Linked DNA regions of Homo sapiens. The protein of the gene in region 2 purifies or fractionates together with the protein of the main gene of each other region. This does not show direct contact. Each region holds a gene or a part of one and is shown on either strand. Other genes may lie near its edges. The genes, in order: USP49 and SHCBP1.

What was found.
Region 1: the proteins of SHCBP1 (region 2) and USP49 purify together in Homo sapiens (affinity purification with western blotting; 2 studies listed by BioGRID and IntAct, with this or other methods). This does not show direct contact.

The regions. Positions count from the first base shown.
Region 1 is NC_000006.12:41,893,984-41,897,895, forward strand, and holds the start of USP49 (ubiquitin carboxyl-terminal hydrolase 49), read right to left. Parts: upstream 1,393-3,912; 5' UTR 1,341-1,392; intron 1,156-1,340; exon of another isoform or gene 1,147-1,155; intron 1-1,146. UniProt on the Homo sapiens protein: Deubiquitinase that plays a role in several cellular processes including transcriptional regulation, cell cycle progression or innate immunity.
Region 2 is NC_000016.10:46,579,780-46,583,691, forward strand, and holds part of SHCBP1 (SHC SH2 domain-binding protein 1), read right to left. Parts: intron 3,879-3,912; coding exon 3,737-3,878; intron 2,276-3,736; coding exon 1,950-2,275; 3' UTR 1-1,949. UniProt on the Homo sapiens protein: May play a role in signaling pathways governing cellular proliferation, cell growth and differentiation. May be a component of a novel signaling pathway downstream of Shc. Acts as a positive regulator of FGF signaling in neural progenitor cells.

The DNA.
Region 1 (3,912 bases), on a different chromosome or scaffold from region 2:
TACAGCATTTCTGCCCTGACCCTTGCAGACCTTCTGGAGCAACTCCCCATAACACGCACATTCGATTCCCACCCCCCTGCAGTCTACCCCAGTTCTACATCCATCAGGACTCCCCCAGCTTCTCTTAGCCCCCTCTCTTCCCTTACTCCCCATCTCATCCTTTAAATTCTGGGGCCCATCTCTTCCTGCTCCTCTCACCATTTGCTTTTAGCCCTGTCTCTTTACCTCACTGTTTTCACCTTGGATCTTGCTGAACCTCTTCAATTAACGTAATTACCCAGTTATCCTTGTCCCAGATGGCCATCACTTCTTACACCCTAACTCTAGTCTCCTTTCAGCTCTTCTGGTCCCAGAATCGTCCTACAGACACCCATCTCTTATCTGTTTCCTTTCGCCCTTCCACCACACTCTTATTCCTGACTCCACCTGGTTCCAGTCCAGGTCTCATTTGCCCTCCCTCACTTTACAGAATTTACATCCATCGCCCACCCACTAACCCATTCCTTTCTCAGAACCTCGCCAGCAGTTCCCACCACACCGTTGGTCCCAGTCCTTCAGCTCATCTCGCTCCGCACTAGTTCACACCCTCGTCACGTCTGGCTCTTAATCACTCTCTCTTTCCTACTCCCAACTATTACCCCAGCTCTGCCCCTCCTTGTCTTCCACTTCCAACACTTACCCCGGTACCCCTCACCCCAACACCACCCGCTACGAAGATTTCCCCTTCAAACCCCTGCTCTTACACCTAACCCCAGGATCCCTTTCCCCAGCCCTAACCTCATTCCCTGCCCGGCTTCCTTAACGCCCACCCTGGCTTTTGCCTCCTTCCTATCTCCTTGGCTGGCTTTTTCTCACTCCTCCTCTCCCTGGCTTCTAACCCTTTCTCCCCTTAATCCTCCTCATCTCATTCTCAACCCGGTTCCCCTCATCGCCTCCAAGCCTTCCTTTCCCTCTCCCTTCAACGCTTTTGCCCCAACCCAGCCGTCGCCCACCCCGCCAAAATAAGGCGCCCGCGCGCCCCGACTCCCGGCTCTCGCCTCCCGCCGCCCCCGCCCCGGGCGCCCCCAGCCCGCCGGCGCCGCGGTCCCGCCCCCTGCCGCCGCTCCTCCCGCCCGCGAGGCGCGCGCTGCCTTTGTCGCCCCTCACCCGGTGTGTGAGGATTTTGCTTCTTTAAAGGGGAGGGCTAGTGAGCCGGAGACTCCTATCCCCGCCTCCGAGTCTTAGAATGGGCTCCCTGGCCGTCGCGGCCTCCCCGGCCCCCGTTCCCCCTACCCCCTGGAGCTACCCACTTTGCTGCCTCCCCACCTCCTCCGTCCCCTCCCCCGGCCCCCTCTATTTACCGCCATCATCAGCACGCGCGAGCTGTCACCAGGGCGCGAGACAACCGAACACGGCCCCGCCCCCTGCCCGTCTATTGGCCCGCCCGCTGGAGCCCCGCCCCTCAGGCCCTGCATTGCGCCAACGGCGCAGCGCTGGGCCGCGACCCCGGCACCGGCACCCGTTCCGAGGGTTCGCGCCGCAGGCGCAAAGTTTAGGGTCAGCCACAAACGCGCGGCCGCTTTGAGCCTGGCGTAAGGGGCGGCGGCGTAGGGGGACGTTGTGAATAGCTGGTCGAAGTTTGGTTGAAGCACAGGAGGGTAAATAAGAAGGTTTCCAGACAAAGAGACTCTTAAAGGTACAGACTCTTATGTCTGTCCCTCCTCCTTAAAGGGCCAGAGACGCTCCCGAGCCCATCTCCGCCCCCTTCTTCCCGGGGAACTGTAAAGGTATTTTACATGAGTTTCCCATACTCTTTTCGGTTCACCTTTAACACCTCTCCCCACTGCGAAGGACAAAGGCTTTCTCACTATCCCGTCCGTATGTTTTGTTTTATTCTGTTAAAAGACGTTATTTCTGTGTTGTTCCTAAAGCAGCAGCCCTCAAACCGTGGGGTTTCCGGAGGCAGCGTTTGCAAAAGTTACTATTGGCTCCCAGGCGGGTGAGCACGTGTCTGGCTTTTGCCACAGATGACCCAAGAGAGATTCAGCTGTTTTATGGAAATCCCCCACAAGTTAGAGGATCGCTGCCGGAACTGAAGAAGTTCAGCAGATTGTAAGGCTTGGGAAATAAACCAGACTGACTTGGTAGTGGTCCATTGGGAAACAGAACAGCACCTAAGCTACAAAAGGCTTAGGTTAAGCAGTCTCCTAGGTGCACTGTCTTGAAACTACTTGCGGGGTGGTAGTGGGGGGAGGGGATGGGAGTCTCCCAAAATAAGATCAACAATTTCAACACCCAACACATAGCTAAGGCAGATAAAGACTTACATTTAAATATAAGGACAAGTAAAAGAAACAGACATTAGCTATAGTAGTGGCTCAAGTTACACACCTGTAAACAGGAGAACTAGGTAAGCACAAAAAAAAAAAAAAGAACACCACACACAATAGGAAGGGGGAAACTACAATGCCTGGACCAAGCGCTGTGTAGGCAATTTATTAACAACTTGCACTTTTAAAAGAGGTTTGATAGAAGGAGAGGAAGTGGAGTGTTTCAATTTGGTTTGGTCGGGATTTATCATGAGGTTCAAGGCCTCAGAGTTAGATTCAGAATTTAGCTCTCCCTTTGTCGTCCATCACAGTTAACATAATTCTTTTTAAGGAATTCTTAACATTATAACTCTAATTATATGTCTTATTCCCTTACTCAACAATCCCCAAGAAAATTCTTGGAGAAGAAAGATTGTTACTTATTCAATGTTAGTTCCATAACAAGGTGCTTTTGCTGAGTGAAGAATTTGGGAGCCACTTAAAACTTCCAATGGAAGGGATGCTCCCAGAATAGCAATACAGGAGGAAAAGTTTCTCAGTGATGTGAGCATGTATTAGATCAGTGTTCTCAAAAATGTGGCCTGGAGGCCGGGCACGGTGGCTCACGCCTGTAATCCCAGCACTTTGGGAGGCCAAGGCAGGTGGATCATGAGGTCAGGAGATCAAGACCAGCCTGGCCAACATGGTGAAACTCCGTCTCTACTAAAAATACAAAAATTATCCGGACGTGGTGGCGTGTGCCTGTAATCCCAGCTACTCAGGAGGCTGAGGCAGGAGAATTGCTTGAACCAGGGAGTTGGAGGTTGCAGTGAGCTGAGATCGTGCCACAGCACTCCAGCCTGGCAACGGAGTGAGACTCCATCTCAAAAAAAAAAAAAAAAAAAAAAAAGTGTCGCCTGGAAAGGCCTAGGGATCTCTGAGACCCTTTGGGCTGGGGGGATAGTGGGGTGCCTGAGATCAAAACGATTTTCCTAATAATACTGAGACATATCTGCATTGTCACTGTGATGATATTTGCACAATGATACAAAAGTAGCAATGGGTAAAACTGCTGCCTTAGCACAAATCAAGGCAACTGCACCAAGTTGTGCTAGAGGTCAAGGTATTCTTCACTGCTACAGTAAAAAAACACCTGTTTCAGGCCGGATGGGTGCAGTGGCTCACACCTGTAATCCCAACACTTTGGGAGGCCAAGGCAGGTGGATCACTTGAGGTCAGGAATTCGAGACCAGCCTGGCCAACATGGTGAAACCCCTCTCTCTACTAAAAATACAGAAATTAGCTGGGCGTGGTGGCACGCACCTGTAATCCCAGCTACTCGGGAAGCTGAGGCAGGAGAATCACTTGAACCTGGGAGGCAGAGGTTTCAGTGAGCCGAGATCGCACCACTGCACTCCAGCCTAGGCAACAGAGTGCGACACTGTCTCAAAAAAAAAAAAAAAAAAAACCACCTGTTTCATTTAAGAGGTCTTTGATGAAGACAATAAAAATTGTTTTATTTAAGTACACGTTTATGTGATTAAATGCATGTATGTATGCATCAAGCACTTTTAAGTACAACATTTGTCTTGAGGAAAAGCACTCTTGCAATTTGAGTTTGGAG
Region 2 (3,912 bases):
CAAAAATTAGCCAGGCATGGTGGCTGTCATACCAGCTACTTGGGAGGCTGAGGCATGAGAATCACTTGAACCCAGGAGACTGAGGTTGCAATGAGCCGAGATCATGCCACTGCACTCCAGCCTGGGTGACAAAGTGAAGCTCCATCTCAAAAACAAAACAAAATAAAATAAAAATAAAATAAATACAAAAAAAAAATTAGCTGGGCATGGTGGCGGGCACCTATAATCCCAGCTACTCAGGCGACTGAGGCAGGAGAATTGCTTGAATTCAGGAGGTGGAGGTTACAGTAAGCCGAGATAGTGCCACTGCACTCCAGCCTGGGTGACAGAGCAAGACTCCATCTCAAAAAAAAAAAAAAAGTGATTTTTTTTTAAGTTGAATAAATGGTTTTTATCTTAAGGCATCACATCTAGAGGCAAAAATTAAAAAAAAGAATAAAAGGTTTTAATATCAACATTTGGCTGAAACTGATGCAGAAATGAACATTACTTTTTAAACCTCCTTGCAACAAGATTTTTTAAAAGTAAAAATACCTTTCAATGATCAAATAATAAATCTAACATAAATCCTACATTTAGTAGCATCCAAAAAATAAGAATTATTTTTTACTCAAATTTAAAAAACAAACATAACCACACTTAATGGGAAAAAATGTAATACTCTTTCTAAAGCATGAAAACAGATACCAAAATACCATGTATTCTTAAATGACCACATATGCTACACTGACACTATGGCCCACAGTGAGTTTGAAAAGATATAACAAGATTCAATTTTGTTATTTCATCACTATAATTTTAATCATTAGGCATATTAATGTCACATACAGTTTTTAAAATATAAATATTTTTAAAGCTGTTTTACAATATGATAACAAGAACACCCAGCAGATACAGGTTGTACAGTTAATCATTTTGACTGTGTCAGTAATATAATCAGAATACTGTAACGGTAAGAGAAAAATACTTTTTTTTTTTTTTGAGACTGGGTCTCGCTCTGTCGCCCAAGCTGGAATGCAGTGGCGCAATCACACCTCACTGCAGCCTCAACCTCCTGGGCTCAAGGATCCTCTAGCCTCAGCCTCCTGAGTAGCTGGAACTACATGCATGCACCACCACACTCAGCTAATTTTTTTTAAATTTATTTTTAGTAGAGACAGGGTCTCACTATGTTGCCTAGGCTAGTCTTGAACTCCTGGGCTCAAGTGATCCTCCTGCCTCAGCCTCCCAAAGTGCTGCGATTACAAGCGTGAGCCACCGCCTGGCCCGAAAAATACCTTGTTTTTAATCATTCCCATTCAGCAATAGTGAAAATGCTCTATGTACAACATTGGCTCTGAATAACACATTTCATTTCTGCTTCAAACCTCCTATGCTGTCTATCGCTGTTTTGACGACTGCATAGCTCAACAGAAAAATGCGTCCCATTGACGTCTCAATAATAAGTCTGATTAGGCAGATAAATTCCCAATCATAAAAGCTTTTATTTTAAGACAAGTATTATGCAAATACAGGATGGAAATCAGACTCACTGTAATTGGGATGAAAAGGCAACTCTAAGAAGAATGCTGTACATATGACACCTATTGCATTTTTATGCACTAGTCTTGCATTCCCTTCCTTACTTCCTCGTCTTTGAAGTGCTAAAGGTAATTACACTAAAAAGTTACTACCAGGCTTAATATGAGAGAACCATGTGTATAAGAAAGCAAGACTTTCAGATAAGCAATCTCCAAATATTTTCTATTTTATATGCATTTATGATTTTTCTTATAAAGAGGGAGTGTTTTATGTGCAACACCTGCAAATGGAAATAAATCTACCTTTCACTCAAGCCCAAATAATCAAATATAAAATACAGACAATACAGCAAACTACAATGGCAGCAGTGATTCTTAGGGCAGCATGTGCAAAATCCAGTATTTTGCTATCTACTTACATCACTGTAGTCAGAAAAGAAATGTGCCAAAACTACCTTTCCCATTCCACTTGAACTGGTTCCCCACAATCCCAACAAACATCTCCTGTGACATTAAGTTGTCATCAGCTTGCGTGATCCCCAGTTCACTCAACCTTTTCTTCTTTATCTGGCCTTTCTGTGTGGAGGCAGCAATTAGTTCATTTACAATTTCACAATTTCCCTCGACTTGCTCAGAAGGGTCAGTTCTTGCACAAAGCTCCATTTTACCAGTTGCACACTCAATCAGCTCTTCTAGATCCACTCTTTCAGCCACATCTGGCTCTCCACTTGTCTGAATTTTAAGCGCTTTATTTTCTGGAGAAACAAACAAATAATAACAAAGTTAAATATACAAGCTAACCCAACAAAAACATATATTTCTACACAGTCTTCTCAACAAGCAGCTGCCTTGCTTTCTATACCAAGGTTCCCTGACCCTCACACAGGATCACCAATTTTGAACTCTTCCTTTACCCTTTTCATCCCAGAATCACTTTTACTCAACAGACATTTCCTGGATAGTTACTATCTGCTAAGCACTGCGTTAGGAGATAGGATGCACAGATTGATAAGATAGTGCCACTTTTCTAAATGAAGTCCCAATCTAGCAGCTAATTCTAGATAGGCCCCATGATCCCCACCCCCTGGTATTACTTTCATGCCTATTAAATGGCAGAAGAATTTTGCACTGTAATTTTACAATGTAATTAAGATTGCTAATCAGTTTTCTCCAGCTGGTTGCTAAAGAGGAAGTCAGAGAAATTCAGAGCATGAGAGATTTGCCTTGAGGGATGTTCTCTGTTGCTGAGATGGGGGGGCCATGAGGCAAGAACCTGAGAGCAGCCTCTAGGAGCTGAGTGCCAGCCCCAGCAAACAGCCAGCAGCCAGCAAGAAAATGGAGACTTCAGACCCATGAGCTAAAGGAATGAATTCTGCCCATGAATGATATGAATGCGTTTGGAGACAGAGTCTGCCCCCAGAGCTTTCAGATGAGTCCTGCCCAGCTGACACCTTTATTTTACTTTTGTGAGACCTGTGAAGAAATAAAGAACTTGCAGAGATGTAACTGGAGCAGATCCTGAAGGATGACAAGGACTACCCTTTAAACTCTTTCAACCTGAAAAAGCTGATTAAATAAATAAACTGCTTTAAACTTTCCTCACCTACATCAAAGCTTAATCCTTCTCTATGACTGAGACTTAATAGTGGTCTACATCATAGCTTGAAGTTCACAGATTTCCACTGAGTTAGCTCCCCTTCGCTGCCAAGAAAGGCAGGTGACAGGAAGGCATTTACTTCTACCAATAAAAACAGAGGTAAACTCCACTATCCCCTCCAGGAAATGCAGCCTTCAGCCTGGCACATTCATTTCACTGTCTCCAGCCTTAACAAACGCCAGTAGGAGCCACCATTGCTGTCACACACCCACTGTTGCTGTCACACACCCACCATAGCATCACACACCCACCATTGCTATCACACACCCATCGTTGCTATCACACATCCACCCTCATTGAAAGCTAACCATGATAAGAAGGGAACTGCACAGAAACCACAACATCAAGATTTTGAATGACAGTTGAACTAGTTGACCTTGAAAGTTTCTTTCACAGTCTGTAATGTTATGACTTAATGTTACCAAGCTTCTCTCTCTCCATGCCCAAGCATATCCCAACAACCTTTTTTAAGGAAGAGAGGAAGACTCAGATCCTTAATCAGCATTTAATGCTGAAATAAATTATGTCTGGTTTTTATATTAAAAATTACTAAATATACCTTCAGTTCCATCTTCAGCATTTTCTTGCAGGTCAGAGAAGATTGTAGGTTTCACCAAGACAACACCATAACCTTCATTATTATGTATTATATTATTCACCATGGATATCTTGGGAATGTCATAATGTTCATCTAAGAAGTCCTGTGACATTGAAAACAAATGTTTTAGGAACTGT